Linked DNA regions of Homo sapiens: regions 1 and 3 are each linked to region 2. Evidence: fine-mapped expression QTL. A gene starts in region 2. Each other region holds a variant in brackets. All regions are shown on one strand. Distances are between the middles of the regions. Region 1 overlaps LOC124902946 (a long non-coding RNA gene). Region 2 holds the start of NEMP1 (nuclear envelope integral membrane protein 1). Region 3 overlaps LOC124902945 (a long non-coding RNA gene).

Region 1 (10,179 bases), 39 kb before region 2:
TGTCTGTTCAATAAATAGTTATGGAACAACTTCATATCTATATGGGAGAAATAAATGAACCTTGACCCCTACCTCACACCATATGCAAAAATTAATTCAAGATTGATTATAGGCTGGGCCCAGTGGCTCACACCTGTAATCCCAGCACTTTGGGAGGCTGAAGCAGTTGAATCACCAGAGGTCAGGAGTTCAAGACCAGCCTGCCCAACATGGTGAAACTCTGTTTCTACTAAAAATACACAATTAACAGGCCAGGCATGGTGGCTCACACCTGTAATCTCAGCACTTTGGGAGGACAAGGCGGGTGGATCATCTGAGCTCAGTTCAAGACCAGCCTGGCCAACATGGCAAAACACTGTCTCTACTAAAAATACAAAAATTAGCTGGGCATGGTGGTGCATGCCTGTAATCCTAGCTACTCAGGAGGCTGAGGCAGGATAATCGCTTGAACCTGAGAGGCGGAGGTTGCAGTGAGCTGAGATCACACCACTGCACTCCAGCCTGAGTGACAGCGAGACTCTGTGTCAAAAAAATTAATTAATTAAAAAAATAAAAATACAAAAATTAGCTGGGTGTGGTGGTGGGCACCTGTAATCCCAGCTACTCAAGAGGCTGAGGCAGGAGAATTGCTTGAACCCAGGAGGTGGAGGGTGGAGTGAGCCGAGATCGCGCCACTGCACTCCAGCCTGGGTGACAGAGCGAGACTCCGTCTAAAAAAAAAGATTGATTATAGACCTAAACCACAAATGCTAAAATCATAAAGCTTTTAGACAAAAACACAGAATATCTTCATAATTTGGAGGAAAGCAACCCCTTCTTAAGCTATAGAAAGCAATAACATAAATTTCTTGATAAGTGAAACATCAAAATAGAAAACTTTTGCTCGTCAGAAGACATCATTATGGAGTAATCCCAGCACTTTGGGAGGCTGACATAGAAGAACTGCTTGAGGCCAGGAGTTTGAGACCAGCCTGGCCAACAAAGCTAGACTCTGTCACTACAAAAAATTTAAAAAATTAGCCGAGTGTGATGGTGTGCACCTGTAGTCCCAGCTACTCCAGAGGCTGAGAAGAGAGGATTGCTTGAGCCCAGGAGTTAGAGGCTGCAGTGAGTTGATTGTGCCACTGCACTCCAGCCTGAGTGACAGTGAGACCCTGACTCAAAAAAAAAAGACATTATTATGAAAATGTGGAAGTAAGCCAAATAGATAGACAAAACATTGATCTGAGAAGGGACAGAGGAATGCGAGATATATTAAAAATTCCTATAACATAGTAATAAAATGACAACCCAATGAATGGACAATAAGCATATGAAAGGTACTCGAGGCTAGGTGCAGTGGTGCACGCCTGTAATCCCAGCACTTTGGGAGGCCAAGGTGGGAGGATCGCTTGAGGTCAGCAGTTTCAGACCAGCCTAGGCAATATATCGAGACCTCATCTCTACAAAAAGTCCGGGCGTGGTGACTCACGCCTGTAATCCCAGCACCTTGGAAGGCCGAGGCGGGCGGATCACGAGGTCAGGAGTTCAAGACCAGCCTGGCCAATGTGGCCATACCCTGTCTCTACTAAAAATACAAAAATTAGCTGAGCATGGTGGTGGGCACCTGTAATCCCAGCTACTTGGGAGGTTGAGGCAGGAGAATCACTTGAACCCAGGAGGCAGAGGTTGCAGTGAGCTGAGATTGTGCCATTGCACTCCAGCCTGGGCAACAAGAGCAAGACTCCATCTCAAAATAAATAAATAAATAAAATTTAAAAATGATCTAGATATGGAGGTGCATTCCTGCAGTCCTAGCTACTCAAAAGGCTGAGGCAGGAGGATTGCTTGAGCCTAGAAGGTTGAGGCTGCAGTGAGCAGTGATTGTGCCACTGTGCTCCAGCCTGGGCAACAGAGTGAGACCCTGTCTCAAAAATAAAAAGAAAAAAGAAAAAGAAAAGAACTCAACATCTTTAGTTATTAAGAAAATGCAAATTATGCCAGGCACGGTGGCTCACGCCTGTAATCCCAGCACTTTGGGAGGACGAGGCAGGAGGATCACAAGGTCAAGAGATCTAGACCATCCTGGCTAACATGGTGAAACCCTGTCTCTACTAAAAATACAAAAAATTAGCTGGGCGTGGTGGCGGGCGCCTGTGGTCCCAGCTACTCGGGAGGCTGAGGCAGAAGAATGGCATGAACCCAGGAGGTGGAGCTTGCGGTGAGCCGAGATCGTGCCACTGCACTCCAGCCTGGGTGACAGAGCAAGACTCCGTCTCAAAAAAAAAAAAAAAAAAAAGGAAATTATATCCATAGTGTGATACCTCTCAATACTCACCAAAATGATTAAACTTTAAAAAACTGACAATACCAAATGTTAGTGGGAATACAGAGCAACTGGAACTCTCATACATCATTAGTGGGAATGTAAAATGTACTATCAATTTGGAACAATATGTAGCAGTTTCTTATAAAACTACACATACACCTACCCTGTGACTCAGCAATTCTATTCCTAGTTATTTATCCAAGAGAAATGAAAGCATATGTTCACACACAGACTTGAACACAGAATATTCATAGCAGTTTTCTTCACAGTAGCCAAAAGCTGGCTATAGCTCAGGTATCCTTCATTTGAAAAAGGATAAACAAACTGTGGTATAGATCCACCATGGGACACTACTCAGCAAGAAAAATGAAAGAACTATGGATACATGCAGCAACATGGATGAACCTCAAAACATGTTGCGTAAAATAAGCCAGACATAAAACTACATCCTATATTACTCTACTTAAAAAAAAAAATCAGAACAGTGGCTTCCCCTGTGGGTTGGGGTGAGGGTAATGATCCACATCTTGATAGAAGTTTGGGTATTACAAAGCAACCACCTGGTAGGGCAGAGATTTGAACACAGGTGGTCTGCCAGCGGCCAAGGTTTTAATCACCATACTACATAGCCTTGCCCAGGCTGTGGAGCCTCAGATGTGGATGAGATCACACAGAAAGAGTGTCCCGTGAAGACAGGAGACTGAGAGGGAGGACGCAGAGAGGTAGGCCGAAGACCAAGAAAGGAATCATGAAAAGTAGTTGGGGGAGAACTTACTCAAGAATGGCTAACAGTGTTGAGTACTGCTGAAAGGCCCAGCAAGAGAAAGACAGGAATGTGCCATCATTCAAGGCCCCTAGGAGGGTGTATGTGACATGGGCCAGGACAGTTTCATGACTGGTGGGGGCAGCAGCCAGCTGGCAGTGTAATGAGGAAGTAAGGAAGAGAAGACTGAATATGAATAATTTTCCCAAGATGCTTGGCTGCACAGGGGAAGGGAGAGAGGCAAGACAGTAATTAGAGAACTGAGATTTCCTTGCAGAGGCACAATCCTGACCACAGCTGACTCCATCCAGAGCTGCTTGACTTTGCCCATTCACCAGGATGGCTAACTTGTCCTTCTGTGAAGTAAAGGTCGGTTGGCCACAGTAAGCCTCTGACAGCCTGAGGGCTCCATTTGAAGCCTTGAGATCAGCTGACTCCACCATTGCTCACATCCTGTCATCCTTGGCAGGCCTTGATTGGCATCCATCCTTCTCCACTAAGTCCAGTCCTTCCTCCTCCTAACACTGTTATACTGCTCTCCACCCATCTCCTTGCTTGAAGCCTGGGGCCACCCCTGGCTCACATTATCCTGGCCCCTCTTGGCTTGTCTGGAACCTGATCCTTCCTTGAGAACATTCCTCCTTTAATGAGGTATCGCTTATTCTCTCAAGTGTATAGGGCGGGTGGTAGTGGGAGGATGGGCAGGCAGCCCACCCTGGAGTCTCCATTTCCTGTGGCGATATAGCTTCACCATGGTCTTAGTTAGGGATGCATTTAGCAGCAAGTAATGGAAGACCCAATTAAAGCAGGCTCAACAATGAGGAGTTTTATAGCAGGTCCAGGGCTGGTTGATTCATCAAAGGTTTTCCACCTCTTCACACTCATACTTTATCCTCATTGGTTGGTGGTATCTCCCCTCCCAGTTGCAACGTGGTTGCAGCTATTCCAATCCTAAAAGTGAACATGGCACTGAAGAAGAACAAAATCTTTCCCAGAAGCCCCCTAAGTCCTATTGGCCAGGATTGGGTCACTGGCCAAGGGAATAGAAATACTGTGATTGGCTATGCCAATTAGATTCACCCCGTGAATACATAGGAGGGGGACACCTGTGTGAAATCCAGACTTTGCTAGCAAGGGAGAAAAGCTTGGCTGCTGAATAGGCACCACCAGTGCTTGCCTCAGTAGTCACATCAAATTCCTCTTCCTTTAAGAGCCAACTATTTCACCTTCCATTGGGATGTGCAACATAGGGCTTAAGGGCAACATTTCTGGTGCCAAACTAACTGGATTTGAATCCCAGCTCTCTCACCTTAGCCTTGAGCAAGTTGCTGAGTTTTCCATGCCAGTTTCCTCATTTGTAAAATGAGGGTTATCAGCACTATCCAATAGAATTTTCTGTGATGATGGAAATGCCCCGTGTCTGTTTTAATATAGTAGCCACAAGTCATACATGGCTATTGCACATTTGAAATGTGGCTGATACATCAGAGGCATTGAATTTTAAAATTGAAATAGCCACAAGTGGTTAGTAGCTACTGTAGTGGGCACATAGTTCTAGCTCATAGTATTATTGTAGGATAAAAAGTACAGTGCTTCAATTTTAGAGTAAGAATTGAAGTAACACATAAAGCCCCACTAAGTGTTAGTTATTATTTTTGCTGTTATCCACTGATGTCCTGGTCACTTTATCCGTGAAGTCTTTGTTTATTTTATTTTATTTTAATTTTTTTGAGACAGGCTCTCACTCTGTTGCCCAGGCTGGAGTGCAGTGGTGCAATTATGGCTCACTGCAGCCTTGACATCCTGGGCTCAGGGATCCTCCCACCTCAGCCTCCCCAGTGGCTGGAACTATAGGCATGCACCACCACACCAGGCTAATTTTTGTATTTTTTCGAGAGACGGCATTTCACCATGTTGCCCAGGCTGGTCTCAAACTCCTGGCCTCAAGCAGTCTGCCCACCTCAGCCTCCCAGAGTGCTGGGATTACAGGCATGAGCCACCACGCCTGGCCTTCTGTGAAGACTTTAGCAGCTGACTGTCTTCCTGTCCACCTCAAGTTTTCCACAAACCCAGATGGTTTCAGTGCTCCGGCAGGTAGTCCAGCCAACACCCTGGCCTCTTGGTTCCTTGTTCTCTTTGACTCCAATGACTTACCTCTGTGTTGCTGTAGCCACTCACTCTCATAGCCACCACCTTTATCACACCCTTGCAGGAGAGCTGGACTGAAATCTCACTCCCTAGATTCTGACCGCAACATCCTAGCCTTACAGCTCTTCTTTCCCTTGCCCCCGGGAAGCCTGGTCTTTAAGTCTGTTGAGACTTCCAGTTTCTTGCCTTTCTTTCCTTTGACACTGGCCCCTCATGTCTTCACTTTTCTTCCTAACCAGTCTCCATTCCACAATGCTTCACCTCTGCTCTTCAACTGTGTCGTCTCCCTCTCTGTTGTTATTAACCTTCTGAATGGATCTCCTGGCTTCAGAACTTATCTTTTAAATCCATCCTCCACATTGCAGCTAGGCTGATCCCTCTACTAAATCTTATCATATGACTCACCTGTCTAAATCTTCTAATGCTCCGCATTGCCCATTACTACCCATTCCCAGAAGGTACCATGCTCCCACAGGTATCCATGCCTTTGCATATGCTAGACCTTCTTCCTGCTTTAATGCTTTCCTTGTTCTTTGCCTGAATAATTCTTATGTCCCTTCAAGATTCATTTCAGGCTGGGCACGGTGGCTCACGCCTGTAATCCCGAAACTTTGGGAG[G/A]TCGAGGCAGGAAGATCACTTGAGTTCAGGAGTTTGAGAGCCTGGACAACATATTGAGACCCTGTTCTATGAGAGAGAGAGAGAGAGGAGAGAGAGAGAGAGGAGAGAGAGAAGGATTCGAACATGCTTTATGCTGAAAGTATAGAGCTGTCATAACTACAGAGCAGGAGGGTGGAGATTTGAAGAATGAAGGGGATAATAAATTGAACAAGTGCCTGAAGAGGCAGAAGGGAGGGGCCTTGAGCACAGGTGTTTTCTAATTAAATGATGAGTTGGTATGAAGATGGATGGAAACTTGAGGAGAATAGTGAAGGCCTGGGAGATAGAGCTGGCTAGGGGCCCTCAGCAGCTTCCCACAATTCTTTTGTGACCTCCTCCTCCTTTCCCTCATCCTCCACAAATCACAGTCCACTATTCAGTGTTCTTGAACTGTCTTGTCTGTGAAATGTACTGAGCTCCAGCAATCAATCCATCAATCAGTTTAGTCCTTACGTAGGAGAGTATGTATAAAACATTTAGCCCAGCACCAAGTACATGGGAGACACTCAGTTAATTGCAGCCCTTCATATCTTTACCACCAAGAATGCATGTTGTTTTTTCTAGCTGCTGCACAGCAGTGTGTACAGTATGATATGAGTCCTTGCCCTCCTTGAACTTGTGTTATTGTTGAGGAAGAAAGATGTACCCACAAAATAATTAAAAAGCAATACAAAGGAATATGTAGTGGCCACCAGTACCCAAATTGTGCTTCTGTTATTATTATTATTATTATTATTTTTGAGACAAACCCTCACTCTGTTGCTGGAGTGCAGTGGTGTGATCCTGGCTCACTGTAACCTCCACCTCCTGGGTTTAAGCAATTCTCGTGCCTCAGCCTCCCAAGTAGCTGGGACTACAGGGCAGTGCCACCACACCTGGCTAATTTTTGTATTTTTAGAGACGGGGTTTCACCATGTTGGCCAAGCTGATCTCGAACTCCTTACCTCAGGTGATCTGCCCACCTTGGCCTCCCAAAGTGCTGGGATTACAGGCGTGAGCCACCATGCATGGCTGTGCTTTTTTTTTTTTTCCCCACAACCAGCACTAAAAAGTATGTTTTATCATGACTTAGAATTCAGATACATATAGGGCCGGGAGTGGTGGCTCATGGCTGTAATCCCAGCACTTTGGGAGGCTGAGGTGGGTGGATCACCTGAGGCCAAGAGTTTGAGAGCAGCCTGACCAATATGGTGTCTCTACTAAAAATACAAAAATTAGCTGGGTGTCATGGCATGTGCCTGTAGTCCCAGCTACTGGGGAAGCTGAGACAGGAGAATTGCTTGAACCCAGGAGGCAGAAGTTGCAGTGAGCCGAGATCCCGCCACTGTACTCCAGCCTGGGCGACAGAGGGAGACTCCATCTCAAATAAAAAAAAAAAAAAAAGAATTCAGATACATATATAAAGCTGAAACAAAAGTTTAATTAAACAATACTTATCCTTACTTCGCTTGATGCCTTCTGATATTTTCTGTACTGTTCTATTCTACTTCAGTTTTATTTTTTAATTTTATTCACTTTATTTTTTATTTTTTGAGATGGAGTCTCACTCTGTTGCCCAGGCTGGAGTGCAGGGGTGTAATCTCAGCTCACTGCAGCCTCTGCCTCCCGGATTCCAGTGATTTTCCTGCTTCAGCTTCCCAGGTAGCTGGGATTGCAGGCACATGCCACTGTGCCCAGATAATTTTTTGTATTTTTTAGTAGAGACGGGGCTTCACCATGTTGGCCAGGCTGGTCTTGAACTCCTAACCTCAGATGATCCGCACACCTCGGCCTCCCAAAGTGCTAGGATTACAGGCATGAGCCTCTGCGCCTGGCCTTTACTTCAGTTTCAAAGAGTGAAGGTCAAGACACTGTTTTTTTTTATGTTTTGTTTTTAATTTTGTTTTAAATTTTTTTTGTAGAGATGGGATCTTGCTATGTTGCCCAGGCTGGTCTCGAACTCCTGGCCTCCAGCAATCCTCCTGCCTCAGCCTCCCAGAGTATTGGGATTACAGGTGTGAGCCATTGTGCTTGATCAAGATGCTGTTATGGGCTGAGTTGTGTTCCTCAAAAATTCTCTTGAAGTCCTAATCTCAAGTACTTCAGGACGTGACCTTATTTTGAAGGACCCCCTTATAGGGTCTTTACAGAGGTAATTAAGTTAAAATGAGGCCATTAGGATGGGGCCTAATGCAATATGACTGGTATCCTTGAAAAAAGGGGAAACTTGGAGACTGACTTGCATACAAAGAGAACAGTGTGTGAACGTGAAAATGGCCAAGGAGGGAGGCCTGGAATAGAGCCTTCCTTCACATCCCTGAGAAGGAATCAATCAATCCTGCTCAGGTTAACCTTGATCTTGGACTTCTAGCCTCCAGCATCTTGAGAGATTTCTGTTGTTTAAGTCATGCAATATGTAGTACTTTGTTACAGCAGCCCTAGCAAACTGATACACTCACCAAATCGATTTTGTGACTCACTATTGGGTTGTAACCAGCAGTACATAGACATAAAGTTATTTTTTCCTTACGCTTTATCTTGTGCAATCGTGTGTGTGTGTGTGTGTGTGTGTGTGTGTGTGTGTGTGTGTGTGACGGAGTCTTGTTCTGTCACCAGGCTGGAGTGCAGTGGCTTGATCTCGGCTCACTATAATCTCTGCCTTCCAGATTCAAGTGATTTCCCTGCCTCAGCCTCCTGAGTAGCTGGGACTACAGGCGCGCACCACCACGCCCGACTAATTTTTTGTATTTTTAGTAGAGACGGGGTTTCACCATGTTGGCCAGGATGGTCTCAATCTCCTGACCTTGTGATCTGCCTGCCTCAGCCTCCCAAAGTGCTGGGATTACAGGCGTGAGCCTCTCTTGTGCAATCTTTACCACCACTCAATGGGATGTCAAGGTCCAGGGGAGGGTGATACAGTCACCCTCACAGTCATGCAGGTGCAGATGTCATTAATGAAGGTCTGACAGACCCTGCAATTGTACAATCTGAAGATGAGTATCTCCTTAAATTTCATACTCTAGGCACTTTACCCTAGCCTAGACTCTGTTGAAGTAGGTATAACTATTATTCTCATTTGAGGGATTGACACCTGATTGTGAACCTCCTAAATGGAGTCATACCCAAGCCAGATTTGCCTCTAAATTCTGTTTTTTCCCCTTACATCACAGTGTTCCCATTGGTATAGTCAGTTACAGAGGGAGTAATATATACTATTTTTCTACCAGTACTTGCTCCTCGCCTTCCTACCCCCTAAAAGGAGCCAAAGTCAGAGATCACATTTACTCTTTTCCCTCCTCCTCTCCAAGTCTTTGGGGACTTGTAGCTCTGACACCCTTAGATGGTGAAACCTGGCTTCACCTACTGTCTGTGGATGTCTGCAGGCAGAGTGGGCACTCGGGAGCACATACAAAGCACGTGTGCCGTGAACACGTATGTGCACACACCTTGATCCTAGCATGGCTTGTTGGACAAGCCAATGGACAGAGTCCCTGCCTGCCACCTCCACCCCTGCTCTCCCTTCTCTTCCATTCACTGTCCTGCAGACACAGCAAACACATACGCACATACACCCTCAATATCCTTTTGGCAGTAACATGACCCCCAAATCTGGGGACTTCTATGTAGGATGGAGACCCTTCTCCTTTCCTCATACCTGGTTTATTATGAACCATAAAAATAGTGCCTGACAGTTACTGTGTGTCAGGCATTGTTCTAAGCCTTCAGATGTTTTACTGCATTTTATTCTCACATTATGGGTTAAGACTTATTTGCTCCATTTTACAGATGACGAGAATGAATCACAGAGTAAATTGCTCAGGGTTGTGTGGTTAGCAGCATTAGCAGGATTTGAACCCAAGCAGCCTGTATCCACAGTCCAGTCTTTTAACTGCTATATTTTGCTGTGTTCAAACCCTCTGCTGCCTGGCTGGGTCCACACACGTGCACTCATGTACAGACCTGCGGGGTAGCAAGGGATGGAGGAGGAGGAGCTGGTTCTGGAAATCAATTCAGGCACCAGGGGGCAGCATAGGCCTAGCTTTGGCCCCTCAGCCCAGCCCCTGCTATGGGAGGGAGGAGGGGAGTAGAAACTTCCTCCCACCGCCCCTCAGACACCACCTCTTCCACACACCGGGGCTCTCAGGTGTCCGGGAGTAAAGGCCTCTCTGGATCCCTTGGTCTCCTCCAGCTCCTCCCCCAGCAAAAACTGCAGAACCCTCCACTAGTTATGTTGATGACTCAGAAGTTGAGCAAGACTGTGTGTGTGTGTGTGTGTGTGTGTGTGTGTGTGTGTGTGTGGTGTTGTGATTGCAATGGGCTCTGT
Region 2 (10,179 bases):
AAGTAGCTGGGACCACAGGTGCATGCCACCACACCTGGCTAATTTTTTTTTTTTTTGTATTCTTTGTAGAGACGGGGTTTCACTATGTTGCCCAGGCTGGTCTCAAACTCCTAGGCTCAAGTGATCCACCTGCCTCGGCCTCCCAAGACATTGGGATTACAGGCATGAGCCACTGCACCTGCCCAATTTATTCATTTTTTTAGCAACAAGGTCTTACTCTGTCACCCAGGGTGGAGTGCAGAGGCATGATCATGGCTCACTGCAGGCTCAACCTCCCAGACTCAAGTGATCGTCCCATCTCAGCCTCCTGAGCAGCTGGGACTACAGGCACGTGCCAACACACTTGGCTAATTTTTGTATTTTTGTAAAGACAGAGTCCTACTATGTTGCCCAGGCTGGTCTTGAATTCCTGGGCTCAAGCCATCCTCAGACCCGGTCTCCTAAAGTGCTGGGATCACAGGTGTGAACCACTGAGGCTAGCCAACTTTATTTTTAGAAACATTACATGTACAGAAAAATTGAAAAGATAATATGGTGAATTCCTATATACCCTACATTCAATTTCCTCAATTATTATCTGACATTAGTATGGTACATTTAGCACCATTAATGAAACAGTATTGAAACATTATTATTAACTAAAGTCTACAGTTTATTCAGATTTCCTTTGAGTTTTTGTTGTTGTTGTTGTTGTTTAGACTGAGTCTTACTCTGTCACCGGGCTGGAGTGCAGTGGCACTGATCTTGGCTCACTGCTGCAACCTCCGCCTCCCAGGTTCAAGTGATTCTCCTGCCTCAGCCTCCTGAGTAGCTGGGTTTACAGGTGCCCGCCATACGCCCAGCTAATTTTTGTATTTTTAGTAGAGACGGGGTTTCACTATGGTGGCCAGGCTGGTCTTGAACTCCTGATCTCGTGATTCGCCCGCCTTGGCCTCCCAAAGTGCTGGGATTACAGGCGTGAGCCACCATGCTCAGCCTCCGTGTTTTTTTTTGTTTTCTTATTTTTTGAGACGGAGTCTTGCTCTGTCGCCCAGGCTGGAGTGCAGTGGAGCGATCTCAGCTCACTGCAAGTTCCGCCTCCCAGGTTCACACCACTCTCCTGCCTCAGCCTCCTGAGTAGCTGGGACTACAGGTACCTGCCACCACGCCCGACTAATTTTTTTTATTTTTAGTAGAGACGGGGTTTCACCATGTTAGCCAGGATGGTCTCCATCTCCTGACCTCATGATCCGCCCGCCTCAGCCTCCCAAAGTGCTGGGATTACAGGCATGAGCCACCGTGCCCAGCCTCGTTTTTTTAAACTAATGTGTTTTTCTGTTCCAGGATCCCATCTAGACCACCACATTATGTTTAGTTCTCAAAAACATAATGGGCTGGGCATGGTGGCTCATGCCTGTAATCCCAGCACTTCGGGAGGCCGAGGCGGGCAAATCACCTGAGGTCGGGAGTTCAAGACCAGCTTGACCAACATGGAGAAACCCCATCTCTACTAAAAATATGAAATTAGCTGGGCGGGGTGGCACACACCTGTAATCCCAGCTACTTGGGAGGCTGAGGCAGGAGAATCGCTTGAACCTGGGAGGGGGAGGTTGCGGTGAGCCAAGTTTGTGCCATTGCACTCCAGCCTGCTCAACAAGAGTGAAACTCTGTCTCAAAAAACAAAAACAAAAAAGCCCATAATGATGTTTGGATGACTTTGACAGCTTTGAGGAGTACTGGTCAGGTATTTTGTAGGATGCCTCTATTGGAATTTGTCTAATGTTTTTCTCAAGATTAGAGTGGTGTTATGGGTTTTGGGAAGGAAAACCACAGAGTTAAAATGCCATTTTCATCTCATGTTATCAAGGGTACATAGTATCAACATGATTGATGCTGACTTCCCTAGGTCAGCTGAGGGAGTGTGTGTGTGAAATACAGGATGACCATATCAGCACTGTTGGCCTAGACTTTTCCTTCTGAGAATGAAATCTCTTCTCTTGCCCATAGCTCAGCCCCATTTTGACTTTTTTTTTTTTTTTTTGAGACAAGAGAGGCTCGCTCTGTCACCCAGGCTGGAGTGAAGTGGCATGATCTCGGCTCACTGCAACCTCTGCCTCCTGGGCTCAAGCAATTCTTCTGTCTCAGACTCCTAAGTAGCTGGGATTACAGGAACCTGCCACCATGCTGGGCTAATTTTTGTATTTTTATTAGAGATAGGGTTTTGCTGTGTTGGCCAGGCTGGTCTCGAACTTCTGGCCTCAAGTGATCCTCCCACCTCAACCTCCCAAAAGTGCTGGGATTACAGGCATGAGCCACCATGCCCAGCCCATTTTGACTTTTTTTTTTTTTCTCTTTTGAGACAGAGTCTTGCTCTGTCACCCAGTCTGGAGTGCAATGGGGCGATCTTGGCTCACTGCAGCCTCCGCCTCCTGGGTTCAAGGGATTCTCCTGCCTCAGCCTCCTGAGTAGCTGGGCTTACAGCCACCTACCACCATGCCTGGCTAATTTTTGTATTTTTAGTAGAGACGGGGTTTTGCCATGTTGGCCAGGCTGGTCTCGAACTCCTGACCTCAGTTGATCCACCCGCCTCGGACTCCCAAAGTGTTAGGATTACAGACCTGAGCCACCATGCCCGGCCCATTTTGACTTTTAAAAAGGTCCTTGTTTTAGACCAGGTGCAGTAGCTTACTCCTGTAATTTCAGTAATTTGGGAGGCCAAGGTGGGATAATCACTTGAGGCCAGGAGTTTGAGGTCAGCCTGGGCAACATAGCAAGATATTGTCTCTACAAAAAGTAATTAAAAAAAATTAAGCCAGACATAGTGGCTCATGCCTGTAGTCCCAGCTACTTGGGAGATTGAAGTGGGAGGATCATTTGATCCTGGGAGTTCGAGGCTGCAGTGAGCTGTGGTTACACCACTGCATTCCAGAAGGGTTACAGAAGGAGACCTTGTCTCAATAACAACAACAACAACAACAACAACAATGAAACAAACAAATAGCTGGGCATGGTGGTGCATCCCTGTAGCCCAACCTATCTAGGAAGCTGAGGTGGGAAGATGGTTTAAGTCCAGGAATTCAAGGTTACACTGAGCTGTGATGGTGCTGTTGCACTCCAGCTTGGGTGTCAGAGAATGACCCTGTCTCTAAAAACATTAAAAAAAAAAATTCTTGTTTTGAAAGCTTGAACCTTCCCCAGGAGATGCCCCCTTCCTTGAATTCCTCAATTCATTTGGCTCTATCATCTGTAGTTTTCCTACCCATCACCATCAGATCCTCTTAAAAAAAAAGTTTCAATTTCTACTAACAGTTTCTGAACACCTGGATCTCTGCTGGGCCCTGTGTTAAATCATTGAATGGGAAGCAGCTAATCCATATAAATAACTCCGGCTTTGGAGTCAGTAGGATTTAGGTTGGGATCACAGACCAGATGAACTATGAAATCTTGGGCAGGTTCCTGTGGCTGTCTTGGCTTTGGCTTCTTAAATGGAGAGAATTATATTTGTCTCACAAGATGATAAGAGGAATAAATGAATCTTTCTTAATCCTAACATTAATTTTACTTCCAAAAATAAAAATCCTATGAATACATTTTTAAAAGCTAATGTTTATGCTTATAAAATATTGACACACACTTTTTTGTGACTTCTATTTTAAATCCTTTAGGACTTTGGAGAACCACACTTTTGTCAGTCGACTTTAAAAATCGTCCTATCAGGGTCCTACTCATAAAGCGATCTCAATTGTAGGCGTCTCATAACAGAAAGGTCGTGATAAAAAGTAACCGAAAGAAAACGGAAGGAACTTCAGACAGCTTCTATGGAAATACCGAGTTTGGTCAAGGAGGCCTCTCCCATTCCGATTTTCTATTGGTTAAACTTACCATCAATCACACCAGTTGTAAATAAACTGAAGACGGAAGCATGTTGTTAGCGGGGTGGGATCTTCCTGTCGCCACTGCTAGGGTGAGAACCCATTTTCCAATAGGCTGAAAGCTGCTTTTCCCGCCCTCTCTCTTCAGTTGCTAAGGGGCGGGACTCATAGGGCCCTTGGAGGGCTGGGTGCTCGAAGCCCTGCCCATCCCATTGGTTGATAGGGGCGGGTTTCGTAGAGGATAGGCTGCTGTCGTTGCCCGTTCGGAGTTAGTTGCTGGGGTAAGGCACGTGAGGAGGAGGTGGCTTGAGGCAACCATGGCGGGAGGAATGAAAGTGGCGGTCTCGCCGGCAGTTGGTCCCGGGCCCTGGGGCTCGGGAGTCGGGGGCGGTGGGACAGTGCGGCTACTCTTGATCCTCTCCGGCTGCTTGGTCTACGGCACAGGTACCGCCCGGGCAGCAGCTGCCAAGGGGGCAGGTGCCGAGGGGGTTATTTTTGGAAAAGGGATTGTCCCGAGGGCGCGGGCCGTTACTCTGCAGAAGGGCGGTGGCTCTACCGAGGGCCGCCGGCGTAGTGTGGTGGAAGAAACTTGGCAGGCTAGTGGGCGTCGGGACTGAGGGTCTGGGCCCTGAAGCGGGCTGGGGCAGCTTCCAGAGTGGGGAGGAGCCTGAAGCCTTTTGGCGGAGACAGGAAGGGAGGCCTAGACTGGTTGAGAAGCAGTCCTGGGGGCTGTGTCTCGTTGCAGAAGCCTTGAGTTTCTTGGTTAAAAGCGAGAAAACCTGGGGACCATTCTGGGCAGGCAGAGCAGCCGCGGGAAAGGGACCATCTCATTCATTCGGCAAATCAGCAAACACCATCTGAGCGTATGCTCTGTCAGGACGCAGGGCACGGGTGGCAGAACGGATGTAGTTGACAGAAATGCAGTGATCTCTACTATCTTCTGCTCTTGTAAAACCTTGATTCCTTACCGCCCCCGGCCCGCGAGATGGAGTCTAGCTCTGTCACTCAGGCTGGAGTGCAGTGGTGCGATCTCGCTCACTGCAACCTCCGCCTCCTGGGTTCAAGCAATTCTCCTGCTTCAGCCTCCGGAGTAGCTGGGATTACAGGCACCCGCCACCGCGCCCGGCTAATTTTTGTATTTTTAGTAGAAATGGGGTTTCACTATGTTGGCCAGGGTGGTCTCGAACTCCTGACCTCGTGATCCATCCGCCTTGGCCCTCCCAAAGTGCTGGGATTACAGGTGTGAGCCACCGTGACCGGCCAAATAATGCATGTTTATTTTAGATGATTTGGCAAGGTACAATTAAGTATAAAGAAGCAGGCAGAAACCACACTGTTAATCCATTCAGAAGCAATCTATTTTAGCACACTTTCTTCTGATCTTTTTCCACATATTTTTAATTTTTTATGAATTGATAATTTGTATCCAGTTAGTACTCTAGTTCTCTTCCCTGGAGGCTGCCAGTCGTTACCAGAGATAGTTTTCTCGTTTGATTTTGTAGTACAATAATTTTCCCAAGTAATTTAAAATTCTTTTTTTGTTTTTTTGTTTGTTTGTTTGTTTGAGATGGAGTTTTGCTCTTGTTGCCCAGGCTGGAGTGCAGTGGTGCAATCTCAGCTCACTGCAACCTCCGCCTCCTGGGTTTAAATGATTCTCCTGCCTCAGCCTCCTGAGTAGCTGGGATTACACTTGCCCGCCACCACGCCCGGCTAATTTTTTTTTTTTTTTTTTAAACAGAGTCTCCCTCTTTCGCGCAGGCTGGAGTGCAGTGGCCAGATCTCGGCTCACTGCAAGCTCCGCCTCCCAGGTTCACGCCATTCTCCTGCCTCAGCCTCCCGAGTAGCTGGGACTACAGGCGCCCACCACCACGCCCGGCTAATTTTTTGTATTTTTAGTAGAGAGGGGGTTTCACCGTGTTAGCCAGGATGGTCTTGATCTCCTGACCTCGTGATCCGCCCGCCTCGGCCTCCCAAAGTGCTGGGATTACAGGCATGAGCCTCCACACCCGGCCTTAAAATTCTTTGTAAATGTTGTCTTACTTGTATTACATTCCAATGTATGTGCAGATGTTCATTTAATTTTTTTTCTCCACCCCCCGCCCGCCCCGCCCCGCAGAATGTAGTCTTGCTGTCTGGCCCAGGCTGGAGTGCAGTGGTGCAATCTCGGTTCCTGTTTCAAGCCATTCTCCCATCTCAGCCTCCCAAGTAGCTGGGACTACAGGCATGTGCCACCACACTCGGCTAATTTTTTTTTTTTTGAGACAGAGTTTCGCCCTCGTTGCCTAGGCTGGAGTGCAATGGCACTATCTAGGCTCACTGCAACCTCAGCCTCCAGAGTTCAAGCACTTCTCCCTCTGCCTCCCGAGTAGCTGGGATTATAGGCGCATGCCACCATGCCTGGCTAACTTTTTGTATTTTTTGTACAGACGGGGTTTCACCAGGCTGGCCAGGCTGGTCTCAAACTCCTGACCTCGTGATCTGCCCACCTCAGCCTCCCAAAGTGCTGGGATTACAGGCGTGAGCCACCACGCCCAGCCACACTCAGCTAATTTTGTATTTTTAGTAGAGATGGGGTTTCACCATGTTGGCTAGGTTGGTCTCGAACTCCTGACCTCAGGTGTTCCGCCCGCCTCAGCCTACCAAAGTACTGGGATTACAGGCGTGAGCCACCATGCCTGGCCTTCATTTATTATTTTTTAGTGACGTGGTTTTGCTGTGACACCCAGGCTAGAGTGCAGTGCACAATCATAGCTCACTGTAACTTCCCACCTCGGTCTCCCCAAGTAGCTGGGACTACAGGCACGTGCCATCTGCCTGGTAAAAATCATTATTAATGTTGTGGATTAAACATTTGGTTGGATATTGGTGGTTTGTACTGTTGGTTGGATATTTGTGGTATTTCTAGTTTTTCATTGTTGTAAGTTTGTGAACATCTTTGTGTATACATTTTTATTTATTTATTTATTTATTTTTTTGAGATGGAGTCTTGCTCTGTTGCCCAGGCTGGAGTGCAGTGGTGCCATCTCGGCCACCTAGGTTCAAGCGATTCTCCTACCTCACCCTCCCGAGTAGCTGGGATTACAGGTGTGTGCCACCATGCCCGGGTAATTTTTTTGTATTTTTAGTAGAGTGGGATTTCGCCATGTTGGCCAGGCTGGTCTCAAACTCCTGACCTCAAGTGATCTGCCCGCCTCAGCCTCCCAAAGTGCTGGGATTACAGGTGTGTGCCACCATGCCCGGGTAATTTTTTTGTATTTTTAGTAGAGTGGGATTTCGCCATGTTGGCCAGGCTGGTCTCAAACTCCTGACCTCAAATGATCTGCCCGCCTCAGCCTCCCAAAGTGCTGGGATTACAGGTGTGAGCCACCGTGCCTGGCCTTATTTTTTTTTCTTTTTTTTTTTGTAGAGATGGGGTTTCATCATGTTGGCCAGGCTGGTCTCAAACTCCTGAGGTCAGGCAATCCCCTCACCTTGGCTTCCCAAAGTCCTGGGACTACAGGCGTGAGCCACCACGCCTGGGCCCAACTATTTATTTATTTATTTATTTATTTATTTATTTATTGATATTGAGATGGAGTCTTGCTCTGTCGCCCAGGCCGGAGTGCAGTGGTGTGATCTTGGCTCCCAACTATTTATTTATTTATTTATTTATTTATTTATTTATTTATTTATATTGAAATGGAGTCTTGCTCTGTCGCCCAGGCTGGAGTGCAGTGGTGTGATCTTGGCTCACTGCAAGCTCCACTTCCCGGGTTCATGCCATTCTCCTGCCTCAGCCTCCCAAGTAGCTGGGACTACAGGCGCCCGCCACCGTACCCAGCTAATTTTTTTTGTGCTTTTAGTAGAGATGGGGTTTCACCTTGTTAGCCAGGATGGTTTCAATCTGCTGACCTGGTGATCCACCTGCCTCGGCCTCCCAAAGTGGTGGGATTACAGGTGTGAGCCACGGCGCCCAGCCCCTTATTTATTTTTTTGAGACGTAGTCTTGCTCTGTCACCCAGGCTGGAGTGCAGAGGCGCGATCTCGGCTCACTGCAGTCTCCCCTCCCAGGTTCAAGCGATTCTTCTGCCTCAGCCTCCCAAGAAGCTGCGATTACAGGTGCCCGCCACCATGCCCAGCTGATTTTTTTGTATTTGTAGTAGAGACGGGGTTTCACCATGTTGGCCAGGCTGGTTTTGAACTCCTGACCTCAAGTGATCCGTCTGCCTTGGCCTCCCCAAGTGCTGGGATTTCAGGTGTGAGCCACCATGCCCGGCTGGACAGTGGTCACTTTTAAATCTTGAATTAGCTGATATTAAATACAAATTGAGAGGAGAATCTTCTGTTTTGGTAAATCAGAGGGACTGCATGTAATCATTGCCTGCTGTTAAAATTTGAAGTGACACAAAACAGCTGGAAGGAAACAACCTTGAAATCTTTTAGTATCCTCCAAAAGTACTATATATTAAAAATATTGCTGGCTGGGCGTGGTGGCTTACGCCTGTAATCCCAGCACTTTGGGAGGCTGAGGTGGGTGGATCAGTTGAGGCCAGGAGTTCTAGATCAGTCTGGCCAACATGGTGAAACCCCATCTCTACTACAAAAATACACACACACAAAAAAAGTTAGCCAATTGAGTTGGCTCATGCCTGTAATGCCAGCTACTCAGGAGGCTGAGGTGGGAGAATCGCTGGAACCTGGGAGGCAGAGGTTGCAGTGAGCCAAGATCGCACCACTGTATTCCAGCCTGGGTGACAGAGTGAGACCCTGTCTGAAAAAAAAAAAAAAAAATGCTGGCTGGGCATGGTGGCAGATCTGTAATCCCAGTGCTTTGGGAGGTCAGCGTGGGTGCTTTGGGAGGCCAATGTGGGAGGATTGCTTTAGGCCAGGAGTTCAAGACCAGCCTGGGCAACATAGTAAGACCTTGTCTCTTTAAAAAAAAAAAAAACTAGCTGGGTGTGGTGGTGTATACCTGTAGTCCTGGCTACTTGGGAGGCTGAAGTGGGAGGATTGTTTGAGCCCAAGAGTTTGAGGCTGCAATGAGCTATGATCACATTACTGTACTCCAGCCTGAGCAGCAGAGCCAGACCCTGTCTCAAAAAAAAAATAAAAAAATAAAATAAAAAACCTGCCAATTCTGTTCTACTCAGGAAAGGGATAGAGAAAATCAACAGATGGAGTAGTTTAGCTTACTTTATTCCTTTATAGGACAGGAAGTATATCTAGTGTTTAAGACCATAGTCAGACCTGGGGGTGAATCTCAGATAGGCTATTTACTATTTGTGTGATTTTGGAGCAAATTACTTAATCTTTCTTAAACATCAGTTCCTCATTTATAAAATAGGGATTATGAGAGTGCTTACCTCATAGCATTGTTGGGAGCATTAAATGAGACAGCATACTGTCTCTTTTATTTATGTATTTATTTTTTATTTTTTTGAGACAGAGTTTTGCTCTTTTTGCCCAGGCTGGGGTGCAATGGCGTGATCTCGGCTCACCTCAACCTCCGCCTCCCAAGTTCAAGTGATTCTCCTGCCTCAGCCTCTCGAGTAGCTGGGATTACAGGCATGTGCCACCACGCCTGGCTAATGTTTTTGTATTTTAGTAGAGACGGGGGGGTTTCTCCATATTGGTCAGGCTGATCTCAAACTTCTGACCTCAGGTCATCCGCCCACCTCAGCCTCCCAAAGTGCTGGGATTACAGGCATGAGCCACCGCGCCTGGCAGCATACTGTCTTAATAGATACTTAATACAAAAAAAAAAATTAGCCGGGCACGGTGGCGGGCGCCTGTAGTCCCAGCTACAGGCTGAGGCAGGAGAATGGCGTGAACCCAGGGGGCGGAGCTTGCAGTGAACCAAGATAGCCCCACTGCAGTCCGGCCTGGGCAAAAGAGCGAGACTGTCTCAAAAAAAAAAAAAAATAGATACTTAATAGTAGTTTTTATTATTACTTTTCTGACTGAATGACTGTGTAATATTTAAATAATTAAACGACAGAAATAAGATTCTGCCTTAGTTCTTCCTTCTTCTCAGTTTTTTTTCTTATTTCTCAGTCTGGCTAATGTTTTAACCCAAAGTTTAGGAAAATGGTTAGTTTAATCTTTTTCATGAAATGAGTTATAGTTATTAGCTTGTTATGTTTAATTCTTGTTTCCTTTCTTTGCATAAAGCTGAAACTGATGTAAATGTGGTCATGCTTCAGGAATCCCAAGTTTGTGAAAAGCGTGCCAGCCAACAATTCTGTTACACAAATGTGCTTATCCCAAAATGGCATGATATATGGACACGGATACAGGTAATAACTTGGAATCCTCTGGCAGTGGCAGCTTCTGTAAATTTCTGTTGGTG
Region 3 (10,179 bases), 89 kb after region 2:
CCACGTGTTATGGGTAAACATTTTGTGTCAGCAGAGCTTCCTGCCCTTCAGAGCGCTTTCACCTCACTTCATCTCGTTGGATTCTGGAGATACCCCTGTGGGGAGGATGGATTTCTTCACCCTCTTTGAGGCCCAGAGAAGTTGTCTGTTACACAAGCCACACTTGGCAGATGGCAGAGTGGCCTAGGCCTGAGCCAAAGGTGTGTCGGCTGGACGGGATTGAGTATATATTAAGTCGAGGTGAAATTCCCATAGCATAAAATTAACCATTTTAAAATGTGTGATTTAATGGCATTTAGACATGCACATTGTGCAAACACCACCTCTGTCTACGTGCTAAACATCTTCATTACCCGCAAAGAAAACCCCATAACCATTAAGCAGTCAATCCTATTCCCCCCACCACCAACCTTCTGCTTCCTGTCCCTGTGGATTTACCTATTCTGGATACTTAATAGAAAGGGAACCATATCATATGTGACATTCAGTGTCTGTGTTTTTTTTTTTCCACTTAGCATGTTTTCAAGGTTCATTCACTTTGGAGCATGCATCCGTACTTCATTTCCTTTCATGGCTGAGTAATATTCCCATATATATATATATATATATACACACACACACACCACATTTTCTTTATCCACTCAAAGAGAACATTTTTTAAAAGTTTGCTCACTGATTCTTTTATTATGGTAAAATATATGTAAGGTTTACCACGTTAACCATTTTTAAGTGTACAATTCAGTGGCGCTAAGTGCATTTACACTGCTGTGCAACCATCAGCACCATTTATCTCCATGGAAGGGAATATTTTTCATTTTGTAGTTTTGTAGTTTTCTTAAACCTTCCACTTACATATCAGATCACTCCAAGATCACAAAATCTATCATGGCCGGTGCAGTAGCTCACACCAGTAATCCCAGCATTTTGGGAGGCCGAAGTGGGAAGACTGCTTGAGCCCAGGAGTTTGAGACCAGCCTGGGCAACAAGATGAGACCCCCATCTCTACAAAAAATAAAATAGCCAGTTGTGGTGGTACAGTCTGTATTTGGGAGGCCGAGGTGGGAGGATCGCTTGAGACTAGGAATTCAAGGCTGCAGTGAGCCATGATCACCCTGCTGCACTGAAGCCTGGGTGATGGGATCTAGAGAGCTAGATCCCATCTCCTAAAAAAAAAAAAAAAAAAAAAAAATAATGGGCTAGGCTAGGTGGCTCATGCTTGTAATCTTGGCACTTTGGGAGGCTGAGACAGGTGTATCACCTGAGGTCAGGAATTCGAGACCAGCCTGGCCAACATGGTAAAACCTTGTCTCTACTAAAAATGCAAAAATTCCAGGCGTGGTGGTGCATGCCTGTAATCCCAGCTACACAGTAGGCTTAGGCAGGAGAATCTCTTGAACCCAGGAGGCGGAGGTTGCAGTGAGCTGAGATCACGCCACTGCACTCCAGCCTGGGCCGTGGAGTGAGACTCTGTCTCAAAAAAACAAAACAAAACAAAAACAAAAAACCATCATGATGAACCATGACAGTGTGAAATGTGGCTTACTTCGATTTTTCAGTTAGTTTTGCTCTTATTCTCTCCCTTTAGGGTCTTAGTTTCTATCCCATTGATATTTTTCTTCAGTAAGGAGCCTTCTGAGAATTTCCCCTTCCCACTACATGCTTTTGACCCATGCAAATGAAGCCTGTCCTAGATCAAGCACCCTCCAAGGAAGGCCCTGGTCTGGTCTTTGTCCTCTCCAGATGGCCACATCTGTGACCACTTCCGTTCCTCACAAGACTGCCCTTTAGTGGCTCCTGTCTCCTGGGTCTCTGAATTGTCCTTCCCATATGGAGACATCCCCCCTGCAGCCTCACCTCTACCTGCTGCCTTCTCCCACCTATTCCTGTCACCCAATGTGTATTTGTAGAAAGAGGAAGTGATGGTGGTTCCTTCTGGCAGAGGCTCAGAGGGAAAGCTCCTCCCTCAGGAAGAAATAAGTGATAGCTCTGCAGTTTTCATGTGGGGCTTTTTAGGGGGTGGGGTGCAGCTGGAAAGAGAGAGACTGGGAGGAAGAGAAAGAGGGAGGAGCAGGAGGCCAGGCTCCTCGCCAACCTGGGCAAAAGGAGCAGGCCAGCAGCTTTGCCCTATGCAGCAGAAACAGCAGCAGTGAAACAATTCCTGGAAATTTACTCTTTTTCCTCCCCGCCCCACTTTTTTTCCCCAAAAAAGTGTAGACAAGATTTTGCGATCAACAATCAGAAAGGAAGGAAGGTACCAGGGAGGAGGTATTGGGAGGCAGAGATAAAGGCAGACGACTTTCCAGGGTCAGGTTAGGCAAAGGGCTGTGCTTGGACCCTGGCAGAAGGGGTGAGGCAGGCTGTCCCAGGGATCAACCCACGTGCCTGGCTTATGGGGTGGAGGCAGGTGCTTTGTGGACAGGTTAAGGCTGAGGGATTTGGCAGTAATTGCACTCGCGTCCACAGTGTGAACTTCCAGAAGGCCACTGAGTCAGGAAGCCAAGTCTAGTCGTGGAGGTTGTTCTGCCCTCCTGCCACCAGCTTCCCCAAGCTAGAGAGGAATCTGGTTTGCCCAGAAGTACCAGATTAGGAGCTTTCCAGGCTCCTCAAAGCCTGTGCCCCACTACCCTGTCCTTGGCTCTCTCTGCTCAGTTCTTCCCTCTTCACCGGCCCTTCACGAGACACTGTGGAGATAACACCAGTTTTTGAGTCAGACCTGTTTTTGACACTTTTTTCCACCACTTGGTAGCTGTGTGATCTTGGGCAGGTCACTTAACCTTTCTGAATCTCAGTTTCTTTTCTTTTGTTTTTTGTTTTTAAATATTTATTTGTACAGATTGATGTGGTACATGTGCAGTTTTGTTACATGAATAGGTTGCATGTTGGTCAAGCCAGGGCTTTTAGGGTATCCACCACAAGCATAACATGCATTGTACCCATTGACTAATTTCTCATCATCCACTCCTCTCCCATTCCCTCTTCCTTCCAAGTTTTCACTGTTTACCATTTCACTCTCCACATCCATGTGTACACATCTTTTAGCACTCACATTATGAGTGAGAACATGCAATATTTGATTTTCTGTGCCTCGATTGTTTTACTTAAAATAATGATCTCCAGTTCCATCCACATTGCTGCAAAAGACATAATTTCATTCCTTTTTATGGCCAAATAGTATTCCATTGTGTATATATACCACATTTTCTTTATCCTTTTATTCGTTGATGGACACTTAGGTTGATTCCATGT[C/T]TTTGCTATTGTGAATAGGGCTGTGATAAACATACTAGTGCAGGTGTCTTTTTAATGTACTGATTTCTTCCCCTTTGAGTAAATACCCAGTAGTGGGATTGCTGGGTCGAATGGCAGTTCTACTTTTAGTTTTTTGAAAAATCTGCATACTGTTTTCCATAGAAGTTGTACTAGTTCACATTCCCACCAGCAATGTCTAAGAGTTCTCTGTGCTCCACATTCTTGCCAACATCTGTTTTTTTTTTTATCTTTTTAATAATAGCCATTCTGACTGGGGTACGATGATATCGCGTCATGGTTTTTATTTGCATTCCTCTGATGATTAGTGATGTTGAGCATTTTTTCATATATCTGTTGGCCATTTGAAAAATGTCTTTTGAAAAATGTCTTCTTTTGAAAAATGTCTATTCATGTCATTTGCCCACATTTTAGTGGGATTATTTGTGGGGTTTTTTTTTTTCTTGCTCGAGTTCTTTGTATATTTTGGATATCTCCCCTGTCAGATGAATAGTTTACAAATATTTTCTCCAGTTCTGCGGGTTGTTCATTCTGTTGCTTATTTCTTTTGTTGTGCAGAGCTTTTTAGTTTAGTTAAGTCCCAGTTGTTTATTTTTGTTTTTGTTGCCTGTGCTTCTGAGATCTTAGTCATAAATTCTTTGCCTAGTCCAATGTCCAGGAGACTTTTCCTTATACTAGATAGTAGATTTTTCCTGCAATACTAGATTTTCTTCTAATAATTTAATAATAGTTTTGGGTCTTATATGTAAGTCTTTAATCCATCTTGAGTTGATTTTTGTGTCTGGTGAGAGATAGGAGTTTAATGTCAGTTTCTTAATATGTAAAGTGAGGATAATGATGCTTCCCTTACAGGTTATTATATGGGATACATGAGATAATATATACAAGCATGCTCCTTTTCCACTTCATGGGGATAAGGAAAAAGGAATCCCATCTTGTGGAATTGACACTGAGAGACCTCTCTAGTCCTATTACCACCAGCCATTTTTTTCCTCTCTGAATTAGATCAACATGAGCCTCCTCTTTTATTTGGCTGTCTTGGGTTGTGTTTTTTACATAGAAGGGTGGGAACATTCCCAAATGTCACTATGAATTACCACAGAGAAATGTAGTAATAGTAACAGCTGATGTTTATTGAATACGCACCATTGGCTAGACACAGTTGTAAGGGGCTTTATCCATATCACCTCATTTAATCCTCATAACAACTTCATGGAGTGGGTACTACCATCGACAAGGAAACTGAAGCACAGAAACTTTAAATAACTTGCCCCAGTCACACAGCTAGTAGGTCAATAAGCCCATATTACAAGGATTCTTGAGCTGGATTCCATGCAGCTAATGGTTTTAGGTGTGAACTGTATGAAAAGTATAAGCAAGTTTTTGATTGTTGTGTTATGTGGGGGGCTTATAACCTTCCTTAGATTCTCGAAGGGGCCCATGATGTCCAAAAGCTTTAAAAAAAAATGACCCTTGGAGAGCTTCTGCTAGACTGGGGTCAGGATAAAAACAGCAATGTTGGGTATCCACTTGTGTGGAGCTGACTCAGCCCTGGGAATTCTAGGAAATTTCTTGCATGAGGAAGGAGGTGTCTCCTTCATGAAGGCTGAGGGATTTGTAGGATGATCTCGGAGGGATTTGAAAAGGGGAAAGTGAATGTCTTTGCTTCCCATTCCCTATCTTTCACTAGATGAAGGACAACTGTTTCCTCTGTGATTTCCCAAGTGTGAGAAGGGAGGGTGTGACATCAGTCTAAGGAAGAGGAAGCTTGAAAAGACTGATAAGAGACTGGAAGGGCCCCAGGTACTATTAATATCCCTCTGCCGCCTACAGCACTAGCAGCCTCCCCGCATGCCGCCACCCTTCCCCCTTCCTTTGGTCTCCTATCTCTCCCAGCTTCTGTTTCTCCCTCACTCTCCCATCTCCTGATCTGCACCCCTCCCCCAGCCTCTCTGTAGATGTGGTAAGTCTCTTGTTGGTTCCAGATTTCTTCCGTTTCTGTTAACTTTTGTTGAGCACCTAATGTATGCTGGTCAGAAATTCTCCAGTGCTTCCCAAGACCCCATCTTTCTAAGTTTTCACCATTTTAATAAAGGCATATGGATTCTTAGACTCCCTGAAATTGGAGATGGGAGGACTTGACAAAGTCATCTTGATTCTCCTCCCTCGTTATAAAGATGAGAAAAATGGAGGCTTTAGGAAATCTCATATTGTCGCATGATGTAAGAAATAGTGATGAAAATGGAAAGCGAAGCCAGATGTTGCAGTGTCAGCTACCTCAACATTCCTTCATCTCTGCTAGAAGCTAGCACTGCCGGGGCTGGAAATACAAAAATGACTGGACTCAGTCTCGGAGCCCTCAAGGGGCTCCGAGTCTGTCAAACCTCTAGTATGCAGCACACTCAAGGCACCATCCATGTTGCTTAATTAACAGTAGTCCAGTCTCTTACCAGCCAGCAGTCTTGCTGTTTCCCTCCTTCTTGGAGGATCCGTGCAGGGAGATATGGGGGCTCCCCGATGCTGGAGAGAGTGGCCATTGGGATGAGCTGAAGAGCCTTGGCTGATCCCAGGCCGATGCCCACGTCGTGACTGCAGGGCTAGAGAAGAACCACCAGGGGGCGCGCGGCTCTTTGCTAGCCTCTGGTTTCTGCAGGAAACCTCTCCTTCCCCCTCCCAGTCCATCTCCACTTCTTCCTTCAATTAGGGGACAGAAATTGGGCAAACATGGACAGTGGGAGAGAGGCCCAGTGCAAATAAACCCTGGATTATTCTGTCCCACACCTACTCCCCCAGCTCCCTGCCCCTCTACATCCTGCCCACCAGTTATGAAATAGTTTCCTCGACCTCACACCGAGGGACCCTCCATGGACAGCAGAGGTCCAGTCTGTACCCCTTTCTGTAGTCTCCTGAGAAGGAGATCCCTCCTGTCCATCAACACCCTGATACAAACTGAAGTAATACCTTTACAGTTACTAGGGTTCATATCCTTCCCTGCTTGGGCAAGGTTTTGGACCACCATCCTCATTGTCCTTGTTCAAATGAGCAATGTTTTTAGCCTCTCAGTGTCTGAGGGGTCCAGATCCTGGATGTGGGCCCTGACAGGGGAGGGCAGAGGGCAGTGGAGCCAGCACCCAGGGCATATCAGGAGGTGAGCAGGTGAGCCCTGTGACACCTGCATAAGTCATTCCATTCCCCTTCCCAGCAGCCCTGGGTACTTCCTTCCTGTGGGTTCCAAGGCTCCATTCCCTTCTTTCCCCTTTCTTTACCTGTGAGGTTGGACTCTCCCTGTGGGTGTTCCACATCTTTCTGCCCCAGAAAACTACTGTAGCAGGAGGGGACTTGCTCTTGTTCACTTTTTTGCCTTCTCCTTCTCATCCTAGAGAGCCTGATCGTGCCCTACTTTTCTGGGGAGTGATTGATTCTGGATGCTGGGTGGGATGAGGAAACTCAGGCTCAGAGCAGGATTTCCACTGAATGTGCCTGGAAACCATGTGTAGCTTCCCAGTAAAGTCTGTTTTCTGGGAGACCATGGTCCAGGAGTGTTGGTATACAATGTGTGTTAGGCCGTTCTTGTGTTGCTATAATAAATACCTGAGACTGGGTAATTTATAAAGAAAACAGGTTTAATTGGCTCATGGTTCTGCAGGCTGTACAAGCATGCATCTGCTTGGCTCCTGGTGAGGCATCAGGAAGCTTATAATCACTGCAGAAGTCAAAGGGGGAGCTGATTTGTCACATGGCAAGTGGGAGCAAGAAAGAGAGAGCTGGGGAGGTGCCACACTTTTAAACAACCAGATCCCATCACAACTCATTCCAGTGTCTCCAGGACAGCACCAAGCCATGAGGGATCCACTACCATGACCCAACACCTCCCACCAGCTCCTGCCTCCAATATTGGGGAACGCATTTCAACATGCAATTTTGGTGGCACAAATATCCAAACCATATCACAAGATATGTAGAGACAAGTTCTGACCCTTGTTTGTAGATCAGAGTGGTGTGTTTCATGGTGTGTGTGTGTGGGCCCCTGTGTGGACACCTGAGTAGGCACAGCAAGGCAGAGAGGCATTGGTGGACTAGGGAAGCATTGCTGAGTAGTGATAACTACTCACTGGGCAGAGCTTGGGGTTTGCAGTTGCATGCATGAACACCTGCAAAGGCAGTTGAAAGAGCAGAGAGATGAAGCCAGGATAAAAAATGGTGCAGAAAGACAGTGATCAGAGAGGAAAGTGAGGACTTTCTGCCAAAATGCCTGAGGGCTTCCCTGCCTACCTCAGCCCTCTGTGTTCTTAAGTCCTCCTGTCTGAACAGAGGCCAGACTCTCACTTCACCCCAGCCCGTCTGGGTCTGTCCTCTGCAAAGCCATGTGGCTCTACCTGGCGGTCCTCCTGGGCCTATACTACCTTCTGCACTGGTACTGGGAGAGGCAGGTGGTGAGTCACCTGAGAGACAAGTACGTGTTCATCATGAGCTGTGACTCACGCTTCAGGAAGCTACTGGCCAGACAACTGAATGCACAGGCTTGCGGGAGCTGCATGTAGGACAGAGAAGGGGACCAAGCAGCTGAGGGGCCAGACTTCAGACAGGCTGGAGACGGTGACCATGGACATCACCAAGACAGAGAGCATTGCTGCAGCTGCCCAGTGGGTGAAGGAGTGTGTGGGGGACAGAGGGACCACCTCAATCCCTCCTAGTGCCTGTTTGTTTCTCTTCTCTCTGTGTCACTAGGGGAGACCTAGTGTCTGCTAACTGGGAACATTTCCAGGACTTTTATTTTCGGGGGCTTGAGCTTTCTGTTTTCCAAAGCAGAAGTCCTAGAGTGGTTGTGGCTGGGCCCAGGGTTAGAGGAGTCCAGGCTGTGGTTAGAGCCCAGTCTCTGGATAACGTTGGGTCCTGACGGTTGGCATGAGACCATCGGGGATGGGGCTGGGCAGGATCCAGGCTTCTGATCTCAGCATTCTCTTACTGGTTCCTTCACACTTGTCCCTGTTGAGGGCTTTAAGATGATCTCCGCTTGATTCACGAGGACACTGGGGCTTGGAGAGCTGAAGGGACTTCACATCAAACACCGAGTGATGAATCCTGTTCCTTTTGGGGAAAGGGAGATCATTGATTGCTTTGTTCTGATTGTAAATGGAAAACATGAAGAAATTATAGAAGAGGATAAGATTGGATAGATAGGAGGATAAGATAGGATTTCTCATTGGAGAAATCATAGAAGAGGATGAGAGTGAAACAACATTCCCCCTAATCCCAGCCTCCAGGGTTAATTTCCCTCTACTTTACACATTCTGGGGTCAGCATTTTCATCATCAAGTTTCTTCCCCAACATAACAATCAAGGTCTCCATATTCCAGCATGTGGAGAGGCCATAATTTGTTAAAGGGATTCTATATTGTTGAATGCCGAAGTTTGTTACCCACTTTTCCTGGCATAAATAACATCTCAGTAGCGATTCTCTACCAAGGTTTGTTGACAGGCTTAGCAGTGCTATTCAAGAAAAGTACAACTATTGAATCAAAGAATCCTCATTCCTTCAAGTCCAGGAAAGGTTTCTGAGTAGGGGAAGGGCCACCATTGCAGGCCTTATTGTTTTTCCAATATTCCTAGGGTCAGTCTCCGTCTCCTGTACCCCCCAGCCCTCACCCACTCACACCCCTGCCCCTGCTGGCCTGGAGTCCGTAGTTCTGTAGCTCTGACTACTCCAGATCTTTCATGCTATTAGTTTGCTCCCCTATGTCTTCTGTAGAGTCTTCCCCAAAGCTTGCTGGACCCTATGGGGATAGGGCAGAGGTGGCCTTATGAGATGGTGGGAGGAAAAGGTGGTACTTCCTGGGGCAGAGAGTGCAGTCTGGACACCTGTGTGGCATGAGACCTCTTTCCCTCCTCCCCTCCTGCTCTGGCCATTCAGTCCACAGTGAGCTTTGGGATTCCCAGGTACACAAGGTGACCTTTTCTTCCAGGACAGATATTGCCTTGACATTGATGCAGGTTGTAGCACAGCTTGTCCCCTGATGCCCAGTGCAGGCCTGCTCTCTAACTTCCCCTAGTCTTAGGATTTAAGTGTATCTCTCCTAAACAGGATGCAGAAAGTAATTACTCATGTGTTTTTCTTATTCTTTCCTTTTTCTTTTTCTCTTCTGTCCTTTCCCCTTGGTTTCTCTGTCTTAGCCCATTCCTGTCTTCCTATTTCCTGTCTCTGTCTCTCTCCCCTGGAGAGATATTTGTTGGACCCTCATTCTGTTTTCTCAAGTTCTGTCCATGCACTTCACAGCATTGGCTTTACTGCATGCTGGGTGCCAGGCACTAGGAGCAGAGATGGGAAGGACCACCCCTCACCCCCCAATACCTTGAAATGGGTGCAAACCTTGAAACTCTGAAGCCTCCCCATCCTTGTTTCCTCTCCTCCACTCCTTTCCCTTATTCCATGTAGCACACTTGTTGACTCAATAAATACATTGAACTAGAAAATGAACTTGCACCCTAACTGTGTCCACCTGCACAAACACAAGAGTGATGCTCTCATCTTCTGGCCATCCCAGGACTCTGGGGCCTGGTGAATAACTCTGGCATCTGCCTGCCCTCCAGCTGCAATGAGTAGTTGATGGAACAGGACTTTGTGACCTGTTGGTCACAAAGTGACCAACTTTGTGATGGAACTGGACATGAACCTGTTGGGGATGATTGATGTGACTCTGATCCTGCTGCCCTAATGAGGAAGGCCAGGGGCTGCATGGTCAACCTCTCCAGCATCGCAGGCCGGGTTTCACTTTTTGGTGCAGGCTACTGCATCTCCAAGTACAGCGTGGAGGCCTTCTCCGACTCCCTCTGGTATTGGCCTGGGACAGGGCCCTCCCTCATCCTCCTGCACCTGTTCTTCTGTGGGAACCATTTGCAGTAGTTTTATGTAATTGT

The links. PIP is the estimated chance that this variant, and not a neighbour inherited with it, causes the effect.
Region 1: its variant is fine-mapped to the expression of NEMP1 in blood mononuclear cells (TOPMed, PIP above 0.99).
Region 3: its variant is fine-mapped to the expression of NEMP1 in ovary (GTEx, PIP above 0.99). The same link has a PIP of 0.9 or more in CD4 T cells and hippocampus.

What each region holds. Positions count from the first base shown.
Region 1 is chr12:57,112,197-57,122,375 of GRCh38, reverse strand. LOC124902946 (a long non-coding RNA gene) reads right to left here. Exons shown (of 2, transcript XR_007063334.1): 2 at 9,497-10,179. Among named protein-coding and RNA genes, the nearest start is that of STAT6, 5.9 kb to the right of the region's middle. RefSeq lists enhancers at 3,238-3,427, 9,995-10,179 and a silencer at 9,796-9,955. The variant G/A (reference allele first, on the strand shown) is at 5,838.
Region 2 is chr12:57,072,735-57,082,913 of GRCh38, reverse strand. It overlaps NEMP1 (nuclear envelope integral membrane protein 1), which reads left to right and starts at 4,123. Exons shown (of 9, transcript NM_001130963.2): 1 at 4,123-4,295; 2 at 10,002-10,126. The coding sequence starts at 4,169. RefSeq lists enhancers at 4,149-4,198, 4,319-4,568.
Region 3 is chr12:56,983,410-56,993,588 of GRCh38, reverse strand. LOC124902945 (a long non-coding RNA gene) reads left to right here. Exons shown (of 4, transcript XR_007063333.1): 2 at 35-200. It also overlaps the pseudogene LOC390332. Among named protein-coding and RNA genes, the nearest start is that of ACKR5, 6.0 kb to the left of the region's middle. RefSeq lists a cis regulatory region at 1,621-2,435. The variant C/T (reference allele first, on the strand shown) is at 3,247.